Linked DNA regions of Homo sapiens: all the other regions are reported to be linked to region 2. Evidence: microRNA targets listed by miRTarBase, many of them from high-throughput screens and not tested one by one. Region 2 holds a microRNA gene; each other region holds the end of a gene's coding sequence. Distances are from middle to middle.
Evidence for each region. Region 2 holds the annotated microRNA hsa-miR-4793-3p (UCUGCACUGUGAGUUGGCUGGCU, at 2,371-2,393, shown strand). A microRNA usually pairs through its seed, bases 2 to 8, with sites in the 3' UTR of a target mRNA and lowers its output. Matches are read on the target gene's strand: a 7mer-m8 pairs with bases 2 to 8, a 7mer-A1 pairs with bases 2 to 7 and ends in A, and an 8mer does both.

Region 1: miRTarBase lists PGM3 as a target of hsa-miR-4793-3p. Seed matches in the 3' UTR shown: 7mer-A1 at 1,947-1,953 and 7mer-m8 at 352-358.
Region 3: miRTarBase lists EIF5A2 as a target of hsa-miR-4793-3p. Seed matches in the 3' UTR shown: 7mer-m8 at 2,427-2,433.

What each region holds. Positions count from the first base shown.
Region 1 is chr6:83,165,983-83,169,982 of GRCh38, forward strand. PGM3 (phosphoglucomutase 3) reads right to left here. Exons shown (of 13, transcript NM_015599.3): 13 at 1-3,341. The coding sequence ends at 3,252. DOP1A (DOP1 leucine zipper like protein A) reads left to right here. Exons shown (of 39, transcript NM_015018.4): 39 at 1,880-2,489. The coding sequence ends at 2,185. Among named protein-coding and RNA genes, the nearest start is that of PGM3, 25 kb to the right of the region's middle.
Region 2 is chr3:48,642,445-48,646,593 of GRCh38, reverse strand. MIR4793 (microRNA 4793) reads left to right here and starts at 2,314; the gene lies at 2,314-2,400. CELSR3 (cadherin EGF LAG seven-pass G-type receptor 3) reads left to right here. Exons shown (of 35, transcript NM_001407.3): 22 at 337-504; 23 at 726-852; 24 at 945-1,151; 25 at 1,385-1,559; 26 at 1,766-1,878; 27 at 2,299-2,378; 28 at 2,917-3,040; 29 at 3,511-3,627; 30 at 3,710-3,858; 31 at 4,127-4,149.
Region 3 is chr3:170,889,964-170,893,963 of GRCh38, forward strand. EIF5A2 (eukaryotic translation initiation factor 5A2) reads right to left here. Exons shown (of 5, transcript NM_020390.6): 5 at 1-3,456. The coding sequence ends at 3,397. Among named protein-coding and RNA genes, the nearest start is that of EIF5A2, 17 kb to the right of the region's middle.

The DNA.
Region 1 (4,000 bases), not on the chromosome of region 2:
GGCTTTGGGAAGTGCTTTGGAGCTTCTTTCAGTCCAGCCACTGAGCTGGTCATCGCCAGTTGTCGTATAAAATCCACCTTTTGGCACACATCACAATCCGATAGAGAAATGATTCATTATTGTTGCATAGAATAGAGAAAATGACACTTCAAAACAACGAATTTTTTTATTTTTCACTCAGCTCATGAGGCACCCATTTATTGAGCTTTTTCACCTTTTCAATTTGCTTCAAATGCCGAACGACCATAAAATGGTCAACATTGAGTTCTTGGGCAGCTCTCTTATAGTTGTAAGAGGATCAGCTTCGATGATGTTCTCAATTGGTCATTATCAATTTCCGATGACTGGCCACTGCACTCCTCATCTTCAAGGCTCTAGTCTCCTTTGCAAAACTTCTTGAGCCATCACGGCACTGTATGTTCATTAGCAGTTCCTGGGCCAAATGCATTGTTGATGTTGTGTGTTGTCTCTGCTGCTTTATAACCTATTTTGAACTCAGAAAATCGCTAAATTTGATTTTTGTCTAACATCATTTCCATAGTCTAAAATAAATATAAACAGCAATAAGTCATTAGCAAAAAAAAAGTGAGAAATATGCTTAAAATGATGTATAACATAACCACATTTATTTAAGAATGTACTCCAATATAAAACGGCAAATTTCAACAATGCAAAAACCGCAATTACGTTTGCACCAACCTAATATTTTCCTTTTTCAGGATTTTACTTTAAAATAAGCAATAAGCTTGAGAGCACATAGAAGAAAATAAGCTGGATTTTGCATCTGCTTGACCCACTAGGAAACTAGTGATATTAAATTATTAGGTAAACAATGAAAGTTTCTGAGCAACATCTGATCTTAGAAGGCAAACTCCATTTGTTAATATGACAGATTGTAATTCTGCTTCCTAAGTCTTCATGATTTCTTCCTTCTGTCTAGTTCATTGCTTATTTTCATTCTTTAGTGTGGAATTGTATCTGTGATTCTGCCCAAGTTCAACCAACCTGTTCTCTCTTATCTTTCTCTAGACAGAATGATGTCTGTAGCTGTGTTTGTGTAATTCAGGTGGCTTCTCAAACTAGCCTCTTAATACCCAAATTATTAGTCTTTATATTTAGTTGACAGAGTTTTCACATACCTTCTCATTTGACTTCTCTACTAAAAGGTAGTTTTAGACTGTCCCATTTTATAAGTGAGGAACCTTTGTATATCCTGCCCAAGGGTGCCGTAAGTATGGCAGAGCCAGCACACTAACTCAATTCCTTTGACTCCAGGTCCAGCTTTCCTCCCTATGTTGTTTAGCACAACCCAGAAGGAGACAGCAGTGTCTCCTGAGGGATCCCTTCCTTTCTCTGTGATGCAGTACTGACAGTAATTATTCACTTTGGACACTGCTACCATCATGGCAAATTTAGGCCATTTAGATAAAAGGGAATTAACTAATTATAATAAAAGGGGATATATTATGAAATGTATAAAGCACTTTGTTCCTTTTTTCTGTAGTAATTTTGTGACCTAGTCCTTGGTTACAGTAGTGAGGGTTCAGAAACCTGGGAGCTTTTTGAGTAAATACAAAGCACAACATAAAACTTTTATGTTTGACTCTATTCCTGTTCAAAGCTATTTCTGTTAACTAAGCTTATCTGCGCATTCTAGTTGGGAACTATTACTACAATGTTAGACTGCTCCATGTAAAACTAATAAATGGCAGTAAAAGGTCTCAGAAGCACCAAGGGTTTTGATCAGGTCAGGAGTTAGAAACTTAATGTCATTTGTATTCATTTCTTGACCAATTGCCAAAGTTTATATATTTTTAATTTTTCTAACATACCACATTGTCTGTTGTATTAATACCAGTTCACTTTTTGTTTTCTGCAGAAAAATCCAGAGGAAGACAACTCAGGGAGAACATTGGGTTGGGAGCCAGGGCACTTGCTGCTCACCATCTGCACCGTGCGCAGTATGGAGCAGCTCCTGCCGTTCTTCAATGTGCTCAGTCAAGTCTTCAACAGCAAAGTCACAAGCCGATGTGGAGGACACTCAGGGAGTCCTATCCTCTACTCAAATGCCTTCCCTAATAAGGACATGAAACTGGAGAACCACAAACCATGTTCCAGCAAAGCCAGGCAAAAAATAGAAGAGATGGTAGAAAAAGATTTTCTGGAAGGGATGATAAAAACTTGAGCACCATTGCTGGTTCCATTTAGCTTACATGTAAATGTAATTATTTAAAACACACACACTGCTCTGCGTTGTATAGTTTTTCCTTTTTTGTATGTAACAGAACACATTTCAGATTGTATTTAATTTAAATATTTGTATATAAGAGCAAATGTCTGAATGTGGCCTGAATCAAGTTTAAATATTGTTGGCTCATACTGATTATGGTGCCTAAGAGAGCTATATATATACACATGTAAAGTCCATTGTTTTTATTGTCCTGAGTTGTCTTAAACCTGCAAAATATACACTACCCATTTTTTTTTTCCATTGGTTTCAGACTTGGTTCAATTAAGATTGGTTGGGGATTTTTCTCTTTTCCTTATTAACCATGTTCTGGTATCAGAATGGTGTTCCTTCTCCATCAGAGGCTGGGAAACGTATTATAATTAGTTTTTCTCCCACATACCTTCACCAAGAGCAGTGAAGAATAACTGAAGGCTGGACCATGCATCCTTAAAAGTATTGCATGAGCATCTCCACCTCAGTATGGAAGAGGGATGGACAACCCCCTATTCATACCTCTGAGTTCCTGATGGCATTAGTCATATAGGTAAGTCATCTAATAATCTTTCTTAAGACTCTGCAATGGAAAAACTGGTTGTATAAAGTCTTCTCTGCCCTCTCCATTTGTATCAGCAATGGGGAATGCTGCAAAACATCATCTTGCTCATGTGATGGTGATGGCAAAGATATCACAAGGAGTTGGTAATAAGATTTAATTTTCCAGTAGCCTGCATGAATTGTTCCCCACATAAAACTGTACAGTTAGTGACTGAATTGTATACTTAAGTCCCAGTATTTTACATTAGTGAGACTGAAATTAGAGGTAAATTTCTTTAACAAGTGTAAGGCTTACCTATTTATAAAGAATTATTCTGTTAGTGTTTAAGAAAAACAGATCTAGAGACAATCCAGTAGGCTGCATTGTAAACATTATGATTATAAATCTCTTAGTACTGCCATTATTATTGACAGTTTTGTAAAGACTTGTAAAAAGTCCAGTTTCTCAGGAATATGAAAATTATCTTCAGAAACCTGGTTGGGGCCTTTCTCCAATTCCTCCAGCCAGCTGAAATACTGCCAAGCTCACTTCATGTGCAAGGTGATCTGCACTTTCCTGCAAATTACATTAAAAGAGATTAGATGAGAAAGACATAGCATGTGTCTAACATGGGCAAGACCATGTTACTTGGAACTCTGGGGAAGAGAGGGGTGATTCTTGATTTTGTTTCACTAACAAATTCTAATGAAAACCTTTTTTCATCTTTCAGTAACAAATTCCAAAGCCCTTAAATAAACGGAAAACAGACCAAATTCTTCTAAATAAGGTAAGTTTTTAATCAATTCAGATTATAAAAATAGCTATCATTCCACAACTGAAAAAATTCAATAAAACTTTAATCCACAATTGGCCTAACAGTAAGTAAGTACTAATGCCTCTGTTGCCATCTCCTCATCCATCATGGATATTCATTAGACTCTGAGATGGCTTAAGCTTCTGCAGGAAAGCTGCCAAATGTCTCCTCCTGATTCCCTATTCAGCGCACTCACTGTACTTTGCCCTGGCTTTGCACACACTTTAAGGAGTATGTGAAGAGGCCAAATAATAAAAATCCAGACCACAAGTCTTGACCCCTGTCAGGGAAACAGGCACAGAGTAAGGCTGTCATTTAAAGGAAATATTTTGAAAAACAAATCAAGAGTCCAGAATGCTATCAGTTGACTTAGAAATGAACTACAAAGCTGGTTGTTTTCATGTCACAAGAGTATATTTTT
Region 2 (4,149 bases):
ACAGAGCCACAGGCTGACAGACACAGAGCCACACACAGGAGGGATCCATGAGCCAGGTACAGACAGACCAAAGGGCTGACAGAGACAGACAAGGACAGGCTGACTGATGGGGGTAGGAGGGAGGGCAATCAGAGGCAAACAGTTGCAGGTCCCCTGGAGCTGCTCAGCCCCTCAGCAGCCCAGCAGAAGCTGGAGGGATTCTTAGAAACAGCTTCCACTCTGGGGACATCCCAGACCCTGGGTCAGCCCTGGCGAGTGGCATGAAGACGGGGTGAGGCAAGCAGGCTGAGCATGGGGAGGTCAGCAGTGCGTAAGCCCAGATGGGTGTCTCCCCAGGCTTCCTCAGAACCCCGTCATGAACTCCCCGGTGGTCAGCGTGGCTGTGTTCCACGGACGCAACTTCCTAAGGGGAATCCTGGAGTCCCCCATCAGCCTAGAGTTTCGCCTGCTACAGACAGCGAATCGGAGCAAGGCGATCTGTGTGCAGTGGGACCCACCTGGCCTGTGAGGACCCCCATTCTGGAAACCCTTGGTCCCGTTAGCCCTTGGGAGGCCAACTAATAGTCCCAGCCTTCCCCTGGGGCCCCCACTAGTGCTGTTGTGCAACCCGGACCATGAGGAATGCTGTACCCCAACTCCAGGCACCCTCAGCCCTTCCCATGATCTCTCACAAACCCCTGCCTGACACTGGGTCACAGTTGTGTCTAACTGCCCTGTGGCTGCAGGGCGGAGCAGCATGGTGTGTGGACAGCACGGGACTGCGAGCTGGTGCACAGGAATGGGTCCCACGCACGGTGTCGCTGCAGCCGGACAGGGACCTTTGGGGTCCTCATGGATGCCTCTCCCCGTGAGGTGGGGCTGTGTTCAGTGTCCCAAGGAAGTGGGGGGTCAAAGGGACACGGGGATTCTGCCCAACAACCCATCAACCATCCCTGTCTCTGTAGAGGCTGGAGGGCGACCTGGAGCTGCTGGCTGTGTTCACCCACGTGGTCGTGGCTGTGTCTGTGGCTGCGCTGGTGCTGACTGCAGCCATCCTGCTGAGCCTGCGCAGCCTCAAGTCCAATGTGCGTGGGATCCATGCCAATGTGGCAGCCGCCCTGGGGGTGGCAGAGCTCCTCTTCCTGCTGGGGATTCACAGGACCCACAATCAGGTGCAGGATCAGGGCCAGGGAACTTGTGTCCTGATGACCCTACTGGCCCAGGAGGCCTGGGGCCAAAACTCAGGGTCAGAGGTCAGGGATGCTCAGGTTGGGGCCAGGGTTTTCAGCAGGATGCTGGGGTAAGATATTGTGGTTTAGGGGTGAGAGGTGGGAAGCAGATGCCTGGGGTAGGGGTCAGAGGTGGGTGAGGCAGGAGAGGTCCTGACACGCCCCCCTGCCCTCAGCTGGTGTGCACTGCAGTCGCCATCCTCCTGCACTACTTCTTCCTCAGCACCTTCGCGTGGCTCTTCGTGCAGGGGCTGCACCTCTACCGCATGCAGGTTGAGCCACGCAACGTGGACCGCGGCGCCATGCGCTTCTACCATGCCCTGGGCTGGGGCGTCCCTGCTGTGCTGCTGGGTGAGGGCTGTGACCCCCAACCTCCAACCATCACATGGCCTGACCCCTGACCCTGTCCCCACTCCTGCTCATGACCCCCAACCTCAAACCCCAAGCCATCTATTCATGGGGTTGCTGCTCTGCCCTCACCCATGCTTTCTCCCATACATGGGCTGGTCAGCAGCTCTGGAACACACACCCTCAGTCCTACCCTTTCTCTTCCCAAGGCCTTGCTGTGGGCCTGGACCCTGAGGGCTATGGGAACCCTGACTTCTGCTGGATCTCAGTCCACGAGCCCCTCATCTGGAGCTTTGCTGGCCCTGTTGTCCTGGTCATAGTGGTGAGTGCCCTGGACTTGGTGCCCCCTCTGTACTTCCCTCCCTCATTGGGGGAGGAGGTGCAGTGGACTCAGCTGAGGGCGGTCAGGTGGCATTCTGCAGGCTTCCTGGGCTCGGCCTTCATTTTTTCTGTCCTCTGGTCAGTAGCCACCCCCATTCAACTGGCATGGAGATGGGGGCGCGGGGTCAGAGATTCAGTTGCCTGTCCCTGCCTCTGTCTCTGCTTCTCTCTCTCAGTCCCTCTCTGGTTCCCAATTTCTTTTTCTGTGATGCTAAGCTCCTTTGGTGTGTGTGTATATGTGTGAATTTCTCACTGGTTCTGCCTCTCTCCGTGAATCTTAGTCTCTCTCTGTCTCTCATTGCCTCTCTCTCTCTCTCTCTCTCTGCCCTGCCCGGCCCCACATGTCTGGCCGTGGGTCCAGATGAACGGGACCATGTTTCTCCTCGCTGCCCGCACATCCTGCTCCACAGGGCAGAGGGAGGCCAAGAAGACCTCTGCACTGTGAGTTGGCTGGCTGGAGGAAGGGGGCTTCTCAGGATGGCAGGTCCCTCCTGGGTGGGGTCTGGGGCCCCCAGATCTTCCCTGGTGCAGGTTGGGCTCCAAGTTCTAGATGAAGGAATGAAGTCACACCTGCCCTGACCTGTGGTCCCTCTCTGGCGCCCTCGCTATACTGTAGCCCCACATGTGCTTCTGCCCTGCTGTCTCTCCTTGTCCTCTGGGTCCCCCCAGAGTCTCCCATGGCCTGGGTGGCTCACTTTGCCCCCTGCCCTGTGTGTTCCCACCTGTCTTCCGTGCCCTCCCTTGTGGCTCCCATACCCCTGTGTTTTCCCCACGTGTCCTCATGGCTCTTTGACTGCTCTCCTGTTTCTTTGTGGGACCTCCCATCTCCCCCAGTGTCCTCCAGAGACCTCCATGTTCCCGTGTGAGTTCCTTTTTTTCACGTTTCGTGTGTGGCCCCTGTGTGTCCTCCCGTGTTCCCTGCATGAGTCCTACATGAGCCTTGCATGTCCTCCTGTGTCTTCCCATGTCCCCACAGCAGGACCCTTCGCAGCTCCTTCCTGCTGCTTCTGCTGGTCAGTGCCTCCTGGCTCTTTGGGCTCCTGGCAGTCAACCACAGCATCCTAGCCTTCCACTACCTCCATGCTGGACTCTGCGGCCTCCAGGTGACTCTGGTGCCCCTCCCTTGCCCCAGAACCAGGTGGGCCTTCAGTAGGCTGGGGCCATCCCTAGGCAGACGTTGACCCTAGGCCTGGAGCTGACTCTTACTGGATAACTTTGCCAGGCTGGGTACTACCCCAGACCAGACACTGGCCCTAGCTGCTGCCCCCAGGCCTGGAGCTGACTCTAACTTAGGCACTGATCCCAGACTGAGTGCTGATCTTGGATCGACCTTCACCAACACCAAGGCTCCCGACCCCTTGCTGATCCACACCGACCTTACAGACTCCAGCCACTCCTGCTGCTCCATCCTCTCCCCTGCTGACCTTCCCCAACTCCCTTACTGAGTCCCGCATGGGCTCCTCACTGACCCACACTAGCCTACAGTGACTGACCCCATTGCTGACCCACAGTGACTTATACTGGTCCCTGATTGATCCCTGCCGACTCTGCTTTGACCCTCGCTGACCCACAGGGCCTGGCGGTGCTGCTGCTCTTCTGTGTCCTAAATGCAGATGCTCGGGCTGCCTGGATGCCAGCCTGTCTGGGCAGGAAGGCAGCGCCTGAGGAGGCAAGGCCAGCACCTGGGCTGGTGAGTCGGGATGGGGGCCCTGAGAAGCCAGAGTTTTAGGCTGCTTCAGGGTTAGCTCACACTCTGTCCCTACCACCCCCAGGGACCTGGGGCCTACAACAACACGGCTCTCTTTGAGGAGAGTGGCCTCATCCGCATCACTCTGGGCGCCTCCACCGTCTCCTCTGTGAGCAGTGCCCGCTCCGGCCGGACCCAGGACCAGGACAGCCAGCGGGGCCGCAGCTACCTCAGGTGAGAGGAAGAGCCTCCTTGTGAGGGAACACTCAGCTTAGTCCAGCCCCACCTTACCAGGGCTTGGCTGACCAGGTCCTAGGGCGGGTGGCTCCACCCATCTTGGCCATCTGGGGCCCTGCTTCTGCCTCTGCCCTAAATGCTTCCCACCACACACACCCAGGGATGCCATTCCACCCGCAGCTGGCTGTGCACTCAAAGACACTCCAGCCTCCAAGGCACCCCATCACATCCCTCTTTCATGGTGGGGGGGCTCCTGCTTTTCCAGGGACAATGTCCTGGTTCGACATG
Region 3 (4,000 bases), 120 Mb from region 2:
AAGGATTTTTTTATATGCATGTATCACAGTTATTACAATTTGGGAAAATTCTGCCAATATATTTTCAGGCAATTAGCTTTAAAATAATGAAATTTCAGCTTTTAGCACAAATAGCCCTGAGAACAATGCATTCAAATTACAGCTCAACTAGAAATATTCTAATTGAGAAACCTTAAAGTACAAAAACAAGTTGTGGAAAGTTGTAAATTTAAAAAAAAAAAGTTACCAACAGTTGAGGCACCAACAGACTACAATACTTTTAAGAGTTGGGAGTTTGGAAAAAAGAACTAACATATAAAGTTATGTGCGCACATGTGCACATGCAAATTGCATTGTAATGAAAAATTGTGTCTCCAAATTTTACAGCCTAATCATTTTATTGCAGTATCTCCTATTATAGATATCATGCTCTGATGCAGGAGAGTTTTGGTAATTAACATAAAGCGCTGGTACAGAGACTTGTATCATTAAGGGAAACAGAGTCAAGAGCTTGGTTAGCAACAGTTTCTTCAAGTGACTGAGCCCCTGGAAGGGAGCATGAAAAAAACATCATAATTATGTTTATGATGCAAATGCTAAGTCAAAGTAGCAATGATATGATCTATGTTGTAGCAAATAAGGTATAACAAAGTCTTCACAGTATAAATAAAATGTTCTAAAAAGAAACAAATATTCAACCTGTTAATAAATTGGTGAAATGTATACAGATAAAAATGGCTTATCACTGTACAATGATATCAACATGACAGTCCACATTCTATACATGGTAACTCGTGATTTTTAACATTTGCTACAAAAAAGTACAACAAATATTGGGAATCAACTTTAACATTTCTGATGTCTAAAAAGAATGAAGTCACTTCTGTTCTATGTTAAAAAATACATGTTCCCCGCTTCCTTTTAATATAATTTATAAAGCTTTACTAAATATTTTGTTCTAGAGAAACATCTATTGACTTATGTGAAAATAAAGTCCCATATCTTTAAAATCTATACTTATATATCGAGTATTTACACTTCATATATTACTTAAAATGAAAATATTTATGCATAAATAGCGTTTGCCATTCAAAGTATGAAGATAGAGATGCATTATTATAATTTGTACACCCTTAATTTGTACACAATTGAAAATATATTTATGTGAAATTTTACAAGTTAGGAAGAACAGGGGCATGCTAATTGAGAGTTAATACTGAATCATAACACCAGCATGGTTAAGAGGGGCCATATGAATGAACTGCAAGCAGCACGGATTAATAATTTTCTGGAATTCCTATGAGTTACAATGCCAACCAGTAGCAATTAAGATACACATTACAGAGTACTAAGAAACTAGAGCAGTATGTAGTAGGTACTTAAATAGAATACTGGAAAGAATGTAGCCTAATTTTAATTGTGCTTTAGATGGGCAAAAGCTAAAATGTTGTAGGAAAGACGACTAACTACTACCTCACTATTTCTTGTGCTTTAGAAATTTCCTTTGTATTTCTCTTAAAGTATCTTGCTTCTTCCCCAAATTGGTTTGCCGAGGCTAAGACAATATTTAAAAGTGTGTACAAATTAAGCAACTAAAACTTGGGATCTTCTGTTACTAATGCTATTTCCAGTCACTGATTAGATCAGTTACATCATCATATATGATATACTTTCCTTTAGAAGATAGGAACAAAGGGCTTTTTAGAGGTCAAGGCATGATGGGAGAGGTCTAAGAGCCAGTCTTAGAGAATTAAGGTATTTCTGAGATAGTGATTTTGTTCTATGTTTTGCTCCAATATGATGATTGTCACTGAGTCAAAGGTCCTCACAAACCCTGTAATAATGTCTAAAATTCTGGAAATAATATACATATGACTCAAAAGATGAAATAGAAATGCAGTGGTGTCACCTAAAATACCTTTTAAAATAATTCAGTTTATAGAATTATTTGCTAGTTATAGTTCACACCAGCAACTGAATTAAGTCACACAACAATCAGAAAAAATGCATATACTTAAAATAACTTAACTTAAATAATAATATTCATATAAAGTAATGCTGCTTCCATGATTCACTTTAATTCACTTTAGGAAAAAAAGGACATAAAATTAACAAAAATTCCAAATCAATTTAAGGAATTCTCAGTTTTTGTTTAATAAATACATTAATGTCAAAAAATCTACTTAGAAATGGTTGGAAAGGGGCTGGGTGTGGTGGCTCATGCCTGTAATCCCAGCACTTTGGGAGGCTGAGGCAGGTGGATCACCTGAGGTCAGGAGTTCAAGACCAGCCTAGACAACATGGTGAAACCCCATCTCTACTAAAATACACAAAAAAGTAGCTGGGCGTGGTGGCATGCACCTGTAGTCCCAGCTACTTGGGAGGCTGAGGCAGGAGAATTGCTTGAACTCGGGAGGCAGAGGTTGCAGTGAGCCGAGATTGCACCACTGCACTCCAGCCTGGCTGATGGAGTGAGACTCAGTCTCAAAAAAAAAAAAAAAAAAAAGGAAGTTGGAAAGGAGTATTTACTGATAAATATTACTATTTATTCAACATAGTTGGAAAACAAGCATTGCATAGTATCATGTAAAGCAGATCACTCCCTTTAAACGTTGGGGGCAAAGTTAAAAGCAAAAACAACTGAGAAACAACTTTTCATTTTTATGCTGACTTACAAAGTCCTCACATAAAAACTTATAGATTTAATCAACCCTCTTTGCCACTGTCTTTTGTGTCTTCCTTATAATCTTACTTGCTAACTAACTTTCACCCAACAGTTCAGTGCCCTTCTGCCAACCATAAGAAGGGACTAAAACCACCATATAAGGTTACATCAAGTTTGCCAACAATTTGGTAAATAGTATGACCAAAGTAATCACATGGTTGCATGTGGCCACCAAAATAACTGACAGTTTTTGATAACATGATTTTTGTTTAAGGATTTGTGTTTGCCCTACACAGGCTGAAAGTGCAACAATTCCAATATATAATCAGTTCATTTTATATTAAATCTGTAATTAATGCAGAGCAGTTCAACTTAAATATGGTACTTCAATACCACTTTATGCTACATTGTTTGATTTAAAACCCTGGTTTATCATCTAACTAAAACACAGGAATGATTTGCTCAGACAAATCACATCTGCTGAAGCTATCTTGTTTGTTTCTTGGACTGACATACTGAAAACCACAGGAATATTATAGGAAACATATCTACAAAATTCAAAAAAAATTATACATATTGATAATTTTTTAAAAATTATCAATTGCTTGCAAAACTAACCCAGCACAATCTGAAAACAATTAAAAAAAGAAATGAGGTTGCTTATGAAGGCTATAGCTTTGGTGACAACTTAGAACCAAATTAGATCTGCAGTTGATTCAGACATAAACAGTGTTCATGCCTGATGTTTCCGTTTATTTGCAGGGTTTTATGGCTACAGCATATTCTTCACTCATTGCACACATGACAGACACCTAGAAGGAAAAAAGCAGGCAAAACGTTATTCAGAAGACAATACATATAGAAGATATAATTAGTTCCTCATATATTGTATATTTGTGGATATTTTGTACATATGGACTTCTGAAAGGGGTATTCCAAAACAAGCTACTTTCTTTACAGTTTTCTAAAGCAGAATTTCTCAGAGTGGTTTGTAAGACAACTTCCAGGGAACAGGAAAAATAACTATAAATGTTTGAACACTTACTACCCGTTACATTTCTGAAAGTTGTAACGAAGACAGTAAATCTCCTTCACTCTTTAACATTCCACTAGCATCATTTCTTACCTGTAAGAATAGCTCAGGGCTGGGCGCCTTGCTCAGGCCTGTAATCCCAGCACTTTTGGGAGGCCAAGGTTGGGGGATCACCTGAGGTCAGGAGTTCAAAACCAGCTTGGCCAACATGCTGAAACCCAATCTTTACTAAAAATACAAAAATTAGCCAGATGTGGTGGCACGCGCCTGCAATCCCAGCTACTCAGGAGGCTGAGGGGAGAATCGCTTGAACCTGGGACGCG